Linked DNA regions of Homo sapiens. The protein of the gene in region 1 interacts with the protein of each later gene in a pairwise test. Each region holds a gene or a part of one and is shown on either strand. Other genes may lie near its edges.

Region 1 (3,824 bases):
CTATCTCTGACTTCCGTTCTGTGACCAGCTGGAGACAACACTTGTTTTTTTAATCTGTAAAGTGAGACTATTTGATTAGGTCAGGTTTGGTATTTTTTTCCGCAAAAAAAAAATTTGTAATGGTAGGTAGGATCATTCAGTTTTAAATCTTCAAATGTGGTGTGGAACTCCAGAGATTAAGGGGGTAAAAATGCAATTTATGTAGCTCTTCTCTTCCTAATCTTGGGGAGCTTCGGGCACTGTAGATTTGCTTATAGAATATCTCTGATGTTCCTCTGTATAGTGGGTGTTTGTGTCATACCCAGCTGGTATGAAGAAGTTTAGACTGACAATTTAGGGAGCCTCCCAGTCATAGCAAACTTAACTTATGTTTCTTTCTTTTTCCCAGCTTTGTCTCCTCAGCACTCTGCTGTCACTCAAGGAAGTATCATCAAGAACAAGGAGGGCATGGATGCTAAGTCACTAACTGCCTGGTCCCGGGTAAGCTGGGCTTTCTTCCCAGTTTCCAACTGGGAATTCCTTTTTGCTTTAGTTCCTTTGCCAAAGATCTTCAGAAATTATATCTTCTTCTCCAGCAGACTAGAATTAGGTTTTTGTTTTGTTTCCAGGTGAGTTAGGAAGAAGACAGATCACTGTGGGCTTTGGTCTTTCCCTCTCTTCTTTTATTATAGAAATTTTCAAATATATACAAAATAAAAATAGTAGAATAGTAGTGGAAAATATGACAGAATGGAATGAGATTAGTGTTACATTTAAAATGGACTGGAGGCTAATACAAGAAAAAGATCAACTCATGCTGACCAAAAAATTCAAAAACAGGTATTTACAAACAGTTATTCTTTTTTTGTTGTTGTTTAGACGGAGTCTTGCTCTGTCACCCAGGCTAGAGTCCAGTGGCGCGATCTCAGCTCACTGCAACCTCCACCTCCCAGGTTCAAGTGATTCTTCTGCCTCAGCCTCCCAAGTAGCTGGGACTACAGGCGTGTGCCACTATGCCTGGCTAAATTTTTGTATTTTTAGTAGAGACGGGGTTTCACTGTGTTAGCCAGTCTCAATATCCTGACCTCAGGTGATCCGCCTGCCTCGGCCTCCCAAAGCACTGCATTACAGGTGTGAGCTACCCCGCCCGGCCAACCAGTTATTCGTTTACAATTATATTCATATGAGGTAAGGGCATTTTGAAAATAATAAACAACACAATTCAGGATAATGCTTACTTCCAGCAAAGAACAAGAAGCACACAAGATATTTCAAAAGTATTAGGAGGAATGAAAGCATACTTAGGCTATATACCTTCTTGGCATGTCTGTACATGCTGGACTGCAGCAGATGGCACTTCTCATCTCTGTCTTCTTTAACACGGTATTGTACTGTTGTGTTAGTGTGTATAATACTATGAGACAGACGGTATTTTACAGCTAAGAGAACTGACTCATGGTGAAGTTAAATAAGCATTATCCAATCCAAAATTTAAGGTATATAGGCCAGGTGCGGTGGCTCATACCTATAATCCCAGCACTTTGGGAGGCTGAGGTGCGCAGATCACCGAGGTCAGGAGTTTGAGAACAGCACGGCCAACATGGTAAGACCCTGTCTCTACTGAAAATACAAAAATAAGCAAGCCAGGCGTGGTGGCATAGTCCTAGCTACTCCGGAGGCTGAGGCAGGAAAATTGCTTGAACCCGGGAGGCGGAGGTTGCAGTGAGCCAAGATCATGCCACTGCACTCCAGCCCGCGTGTCAGAGCAAAACTCTGTCCCACCCCCCCACCCCCACAAAAAGAAAAAAACAAAAAAAACACAAAATTTAAGATGTACAGATTTGACCACAGGTTCGCCTGATTTCAAATCCGGTTCTTGGCTAACATGTCATGCACCTTTCAGTGGTGTCCCCATGATATGCTTTGTCTCTGTGTTCACAGTAAAAGTGCAATGTATTACTTATAGGAATGCTAAAAGCACCAGGCCAGAAATCAGATAGCCACTGAAGTTAAAACTGGGCAGGCTTCTTAGAAACTGAGCAGCAATGAGTGAGTCAAGGACTAGTGGAAAGTAGCAGGCACACTGAACTTCAGTAATACGAGAATGAGGTGGGAGCAGAGTGTCATCACCATTAGGCCTGAAGGGATGAGAACAGGTTCTGGAAACCAGACTTGCAGTTCACAGAGGCTGTTCCCATCTGTCAAGGTACCTCCATTACGTCACCACCACTGCACTGGGGCAACTTTCTTGCCATATCCAGCTGGTGATCTCCATTGGTGAAATAAATCAGAAAGGCAGAGGGCAAGAGAAACCTTTGGTATAATCCACACAGCTCACCCTCCCTGGGGAACAGAGTAGGGTGGAGAGGAAACCTGGAGGGAAGGAGAGAAGATATCCAGCATACAGATCTCATAGGACATTCCATTTAAAATTTTTTTTTTACATACAGTAACGTTTTCCACTTTGGATTTACAGTTCTGTGATTTTTGACAGATGCATATAGTTGTGTAGCCCCCACTTCATTCAAGATACAGAGCAGGCTGGGCACTGTGGCTCATGCCTGTAATCCCAACACTTTGGGAGGCGGAGGCGGGTGGATCACTTGAGGTCAGGAGTTCGAGACCAGCCTGGCCAACATGGTGGAACCCCGTCTCTACTAAAAATACAAAAATTAGCTGGGCACAGTGGCGGGCGCCTATAAACTCAGGTACCTGGGAGGCTGAGGCAGGAGAATTGCTTGAACTCAGGGAACAGAGGTTGCACTGAGCCGAGATTGTGCCACTTCACTCTACCCTAGGTGAAAGAGCGAAACTCCATCTCAAAAAAAAAACAAAACACCAAGATACAGGGCAAACCCATGATCCTAGAATTCCCTGTGTGCTGCCCCTGTGTATATAGTCCATGCTAACTCCCCCTCCAGCCCCTTGCAACCACTGATCTATTGATTTTTACCTTTTCCAGAAGGTCACATAAATGGAATCTCATAGTATGAAGCCTCTAGCTCCTTTCATATAGCATAATGTATCGGAGGTTCATCTGTTGTTGCATGAGTCAGTAGGATGTTCCTTTTTATTACTGAGTAGATTTACACTGTGTGGCTGTACCACGTTTTGTTTATGCATTTCCTGTTGAGGGACATTTGAGTTTCTTCCAGTTTTTGCCAATTATAAATAAAGCCCTTTCTCAGGTTTATACATTTGCATACAGGTTTTTGTGTGGACATAAATTTTCATACTCAGGTATTTAGCCAAGAGAATGATAGGTGTGTGCCAAGAGTACGTTTAACTTTATGAAAAATATGCAAATTTTCCAAAGTGGTTGTAGCATTTTTGCATTCTCACAGTAATGTGTGGGAGTGGCAGTTATTCCGCATCCTCACCAGCACTTGGTATCACACATTTTAAAAGTACCCTTTCTAATAAGTGTCTTAGAGGTATCTCACTGTCATTTTAACTTTCATTTCCCTAATAAATAATGATATTAAGCATCATTTGCTTATTTATTACCAACTACCTATATTCTTCTTTGGTGAAATGTTTATTTTAGTCTTTTGCTCAGTAAGAAAACTAGTCTGTTTTCTGAGTTTTTTTTTTTTTTTTTTTTGGGAGACGGAGTCTTGCTCTGTAGCCCAGGCTGGAGTGCAGTGGCACGATATCAGCTCACTGCAACGTTTGCCTTCTCCCGGATTCAAGCAATTCTCCTGCCTTAGCCTCCCGAGTAGCTGGGACTACAGGTGCATGACGCCATGCCTGGCTAATTTTTTTTTTTTTTTTTTGTATTTTAGTAGAGACGGGGTTTCACCGTGTTGCCCAGGCTGGTCTCGAACTGCTGAACTCAGGCAATC
Region 2 (3,824 bases), on another chromosome or scaffold:
ATAAGTAGACGTTACCAATACAAAAAAAGTTGAGGAAGTATGTGCGCAGGTGCTATTGACTTCAGAAAGGTTCATATTGAAAGTTTGATGTGACTGTGGCCGGGCGCGGTGGCTCACGCCTATAATCCCAGCACTTTGGGAGGCCGAGGCGGGCGGATCACGAGGTCAGGAGATAGAGACCATCCTGGCTAACACGGTGAAACCCCGTCTCTACTAAAAATACAAAAAATTAGCCAGGTGTGGTGGCAGGCGCCTGTAGTCCCAGCTACTCGGGAGGCTGAGGCAGGAGAGTGGCGTGAACCTGGGAGGCGGAGCTTGCAGTGAGCCGAGATCATGCCACTGCACTCCAGCCTGGGCAAAAGAGCAAGACTCCGTCTCAAAAAAAAAAAAAAAAAAGTTTGATGTGACTTTAACGCATAATTTTAGAGTGCTGGAAAGGGCCTGGTACCCCAAAAGAGTATTCTTCTAATGTCTGAACCCCGGAGGCGGAGGTTGCAGTGAGCCGAGATTGCGCCATTGCTCTCCAGCCTGGGCAACAAGAGCAAAACTCTGTCCCAAAAAAAAAATTTTTTTTCATTTGTTCTACAGTTTGATAAATCTCAAATTAATACAAAGTTGAGAAGAAAATCAGCTTAGTAAATACAGTCAGCTTCTCTCTTAAGAACAGGTTTTGAGAACTTGATATAGGAAATAAATACCTCCAGGGAGAAGGGTCTTTTGTACCCAAAAGAGGCAGGGTAAAGAAGTCGAGAGGCTTGTAACAACATTACCAACTTGAAAATGTAACCTTGAATTGTACTTTTTATTATCCTGGCTTACAGTTACGTTATTAATACCAACAATGACAAAGTAGCCCCCTTTTTCTTAATAAATATCATCTCATTTAGTCTGTACAAAATGCTGTGAGTTTGGCAGGATTATCCCTATTTGAAATATGAAGAAACTGAGGTTAAGTAGCTTACCCAGGACCATGACACTGAGCAGCAGAGCTGGGGATTAAACCCAGATTCAAAGTCCTTCTTCCTCTTGTATAATACATGCAGCAAAAACATGTCAGATTCTACTAGAAATGATATTCTTCCTAGTAATTGCTTTTTGTTTAATAATGAAGAAAAAAATCTAGATGATTAAGAGGAAATATGTGAAGACAAGTTTTTTCATTAAAAATAATTGGGGCTGGGTGCAGTGGCTCACGCCTGTAATCCCAACATTTTGGGAGGCTGAGGCAGGCAGATTGCTTGAACCCAGGAGTTTGAGACCAGCCTGGGCAACATGGCAAAACCCCATCTCTACAAAAAATACAAAAATTAGCCGGCTATGTTAGCGCATGCCTGTAACCCCAGCTACGCGAGAGGCTGAGGTGAGAGGATCACTTAAGCCCAGGAGGCAAAGTTTGCAGTGAGCCGAGATTGTGTCACTGCACTCCAGCCTGGGTGACAGAGCAAGACCCTGTCTCAAAAATAATAATTGGTTAAACTTTTGGAAAAAGTCACACAAACCTTTACCAGTGTGTGTGGAAGGCAGTGGGCACTTGTAAACACTGTTAAATGGGTTTCTTTACTAATGGCAAATAGCACAGAGAAAAGCAATGAGAACATTCTGAATTTTAGAGCACATCTCATAGAATATATTTAGGACAAGGTGGAATTTAGCTATTTGTATTATAACATCTCATTTTTTTAATAGGTGCCTGATTATTACAAAATAATTAAAAATCCAATGGATTTGTCAACCATCAAGAAAAGACTACAAGAAGATTATTCCATGTACTCAAAACCTGAAGATTTTGTAGCTGATTTTAGATTGATCTTTCAAAACTGTGCTGAATTCAATGAGGTGAGGCTAGGGGAGGGAAGGGGGCAGGAAGGAACAGCAGTGTGAAAATCATTTTATTACTAAACACCTTGTCAACATAGGAGACCAAGATGTCTGAGTTAGAATAAATTTCCAACTTTTCAGATCAGGGAATGCAAGAGATAATTCAGATAACTCTGTCCACATTTATATTCAAAGGTTTATTAGATGGTGATGGAAATGCAAATTACAGCTGATAACTGAAAGACAAAATGTTTTTCTCTGACCTAGACATATTCTTTATCATTCCCACCTGTATTTCTTATTTTTATGTTGATCTTGAAATATTAAGGATGTGGGCCAAATAGCTCTAATTTAAAAATTTCTCATCTGTCAGTTCATCTACACATCAGTCAGACTTAGAACCTTTTGCTGCTGGTGGTTTGTTCTCTGTTACTCATTCTAATAGTACTACATTTAATTTGTTCTAAAAATACCTGGTTCATGATCCTATGGTTATGGAATCCTAACTGATATGTGTTTGGCAATATAGTCCTACCATTACCACCTTCTTTTAGAATAATCCAGGCTTTTACTTTTATCTTTTTTCCACACTTCTGAATCTTTTATTTTAGCTGGCCTTCTGTACAGAGACTTTGTCTAGTCCTAAACTATTATTTCAATGACTATGCATGAACACTTTTCAAAACAGCTCATTAATATATATAATCTCAGAAGTCAAAAGTGTGTCCTTTTTTTACTCATTTTTATTTTTACTCCACAGCCTGATTCAGAAGTAGCCAATGCTGGTATAAAACTTGAAAATTATTTTGAAGAACTTCTAAAGAACCTCTATCCAGAAAAAAGGTTTCCCAAACCAGAATTCAGGAATGAATCAGAAGATAATAAATTTAGTGATGATTCAGATGATGACTTTGTACAGCCCCGGAAGAAACGCCTCAAAAGCATTGAAGAACGCCAGTTGCTTAAATAATATGCAGCACCACTAGCTTGTGCTGGTTTTTAGATTTTTTTGTTTTCAAAAAAACATTTGTCAGTAATTTAACATCACTACAAAAAGAAGAGTTTGTGACTATTCTCATCTCTGTTTTGGACGTTTACTAGACTTTGATTTCCTTAATAGCCCATTTCTGTTAACCTCTTATCACTAAGAAAGAAAGGAAAGAAGGAGATGAATAGAAGAAAGAAAATGGAAAGAAGGAAAAAAGGAGGATAGAAAAAGGATGGAAGAAAGAAGCATTGAAAACAAAGACATTCTTCCCACTTCTTGGATTTTTAAACCACAGTCTGGAGTGATAGCTACTGTAGAAAGGAAATAGACTTTGTATGAACTCTTTAAGTTGAAAAGTAAAAAATATATGTGGTTTGGATGTGTGCTTTAATTCAGCTTTAGAAATTAATACCACTACCCGTGAATTATATGGCCTGACAATATGAATTAGGTGTACTGTACTGAAGAACAGTACTCCACAAACATGGGTGGTAACAAGAGTTCCATCCCAGGAGGCCAAACGGTGCAACAGAAGGGTAGGTTAGATGCTATTAAGAAGGCACTTAATAGTACATCATGTAAGATGGCAACTGTATTAAAGAAAAATCCGGAAAACAAATGTTTGATTTTTGTTTTTGTTTTTATCTTGTCTGTAGAGGTATTTTGGTATAGCAGGTTTTCAAGGCCATTTTTTATACATTTCTAGATCTAGATTTTCAACTTCTTCCACTGAGGGAAGTATATACATTTGGGTTTGCTGTGTGTCTATGTGAGGTTTAATTGTACAGGTGATCCTTTTACAACAAGCCTCATTGTTTGCAGTATAGCTTTTAGTGGAACTACCCAAAATATAAATACAGCAGCGTGCACTGTATTTGATGTGAGGGTTCTTCATCATATACCCTACTGGGCATTAAATATAAGTTCCTCTGAAAGGGACTCGTTTTTGTGGTTTTCATCTGTCTATAATTTGGAATGAAAATGTGTTGTAGGATTTTGGGAGCAGGCAGCTGGGGGG

Evidence for each region.
Region 2: the proteins of ZNF10 (region 1) and TRIM24 interact in a two-hybrid assay, tested with the Homo sapiens proteins (one study listed by BioGRID).

What each region holds. Positions count from the first base shown.
Region 1 is NC_000012.12:133,144,046-133,147,869, forward strand, and holds part of ZNF10 (zinc finger protein 10), read left to right. Parts: intron 1-388; 5' UTR 389-447; coding exon 448-480; intron 481-3,824. UniProt on the Homo sapiens protein: May be involved in transcriptional regulation.
Region 2 is NC_000007.14:138,582,164-138,585,987, forward strand, and holds part of TRIM24 (transcription intermediary factor 1-alpha), read left to right. Parts: intron 1-1,686; coding exon 1,687-1,836; intron 1,837-2,578; coding exon 2,579-2,788; 3' UTR 2,789-3,824. UniProt on the Homo sapiens protein: Transcriptional coactivator that interacts with numerous nuclear receptors and coactivators and modulates the transcription of target genes.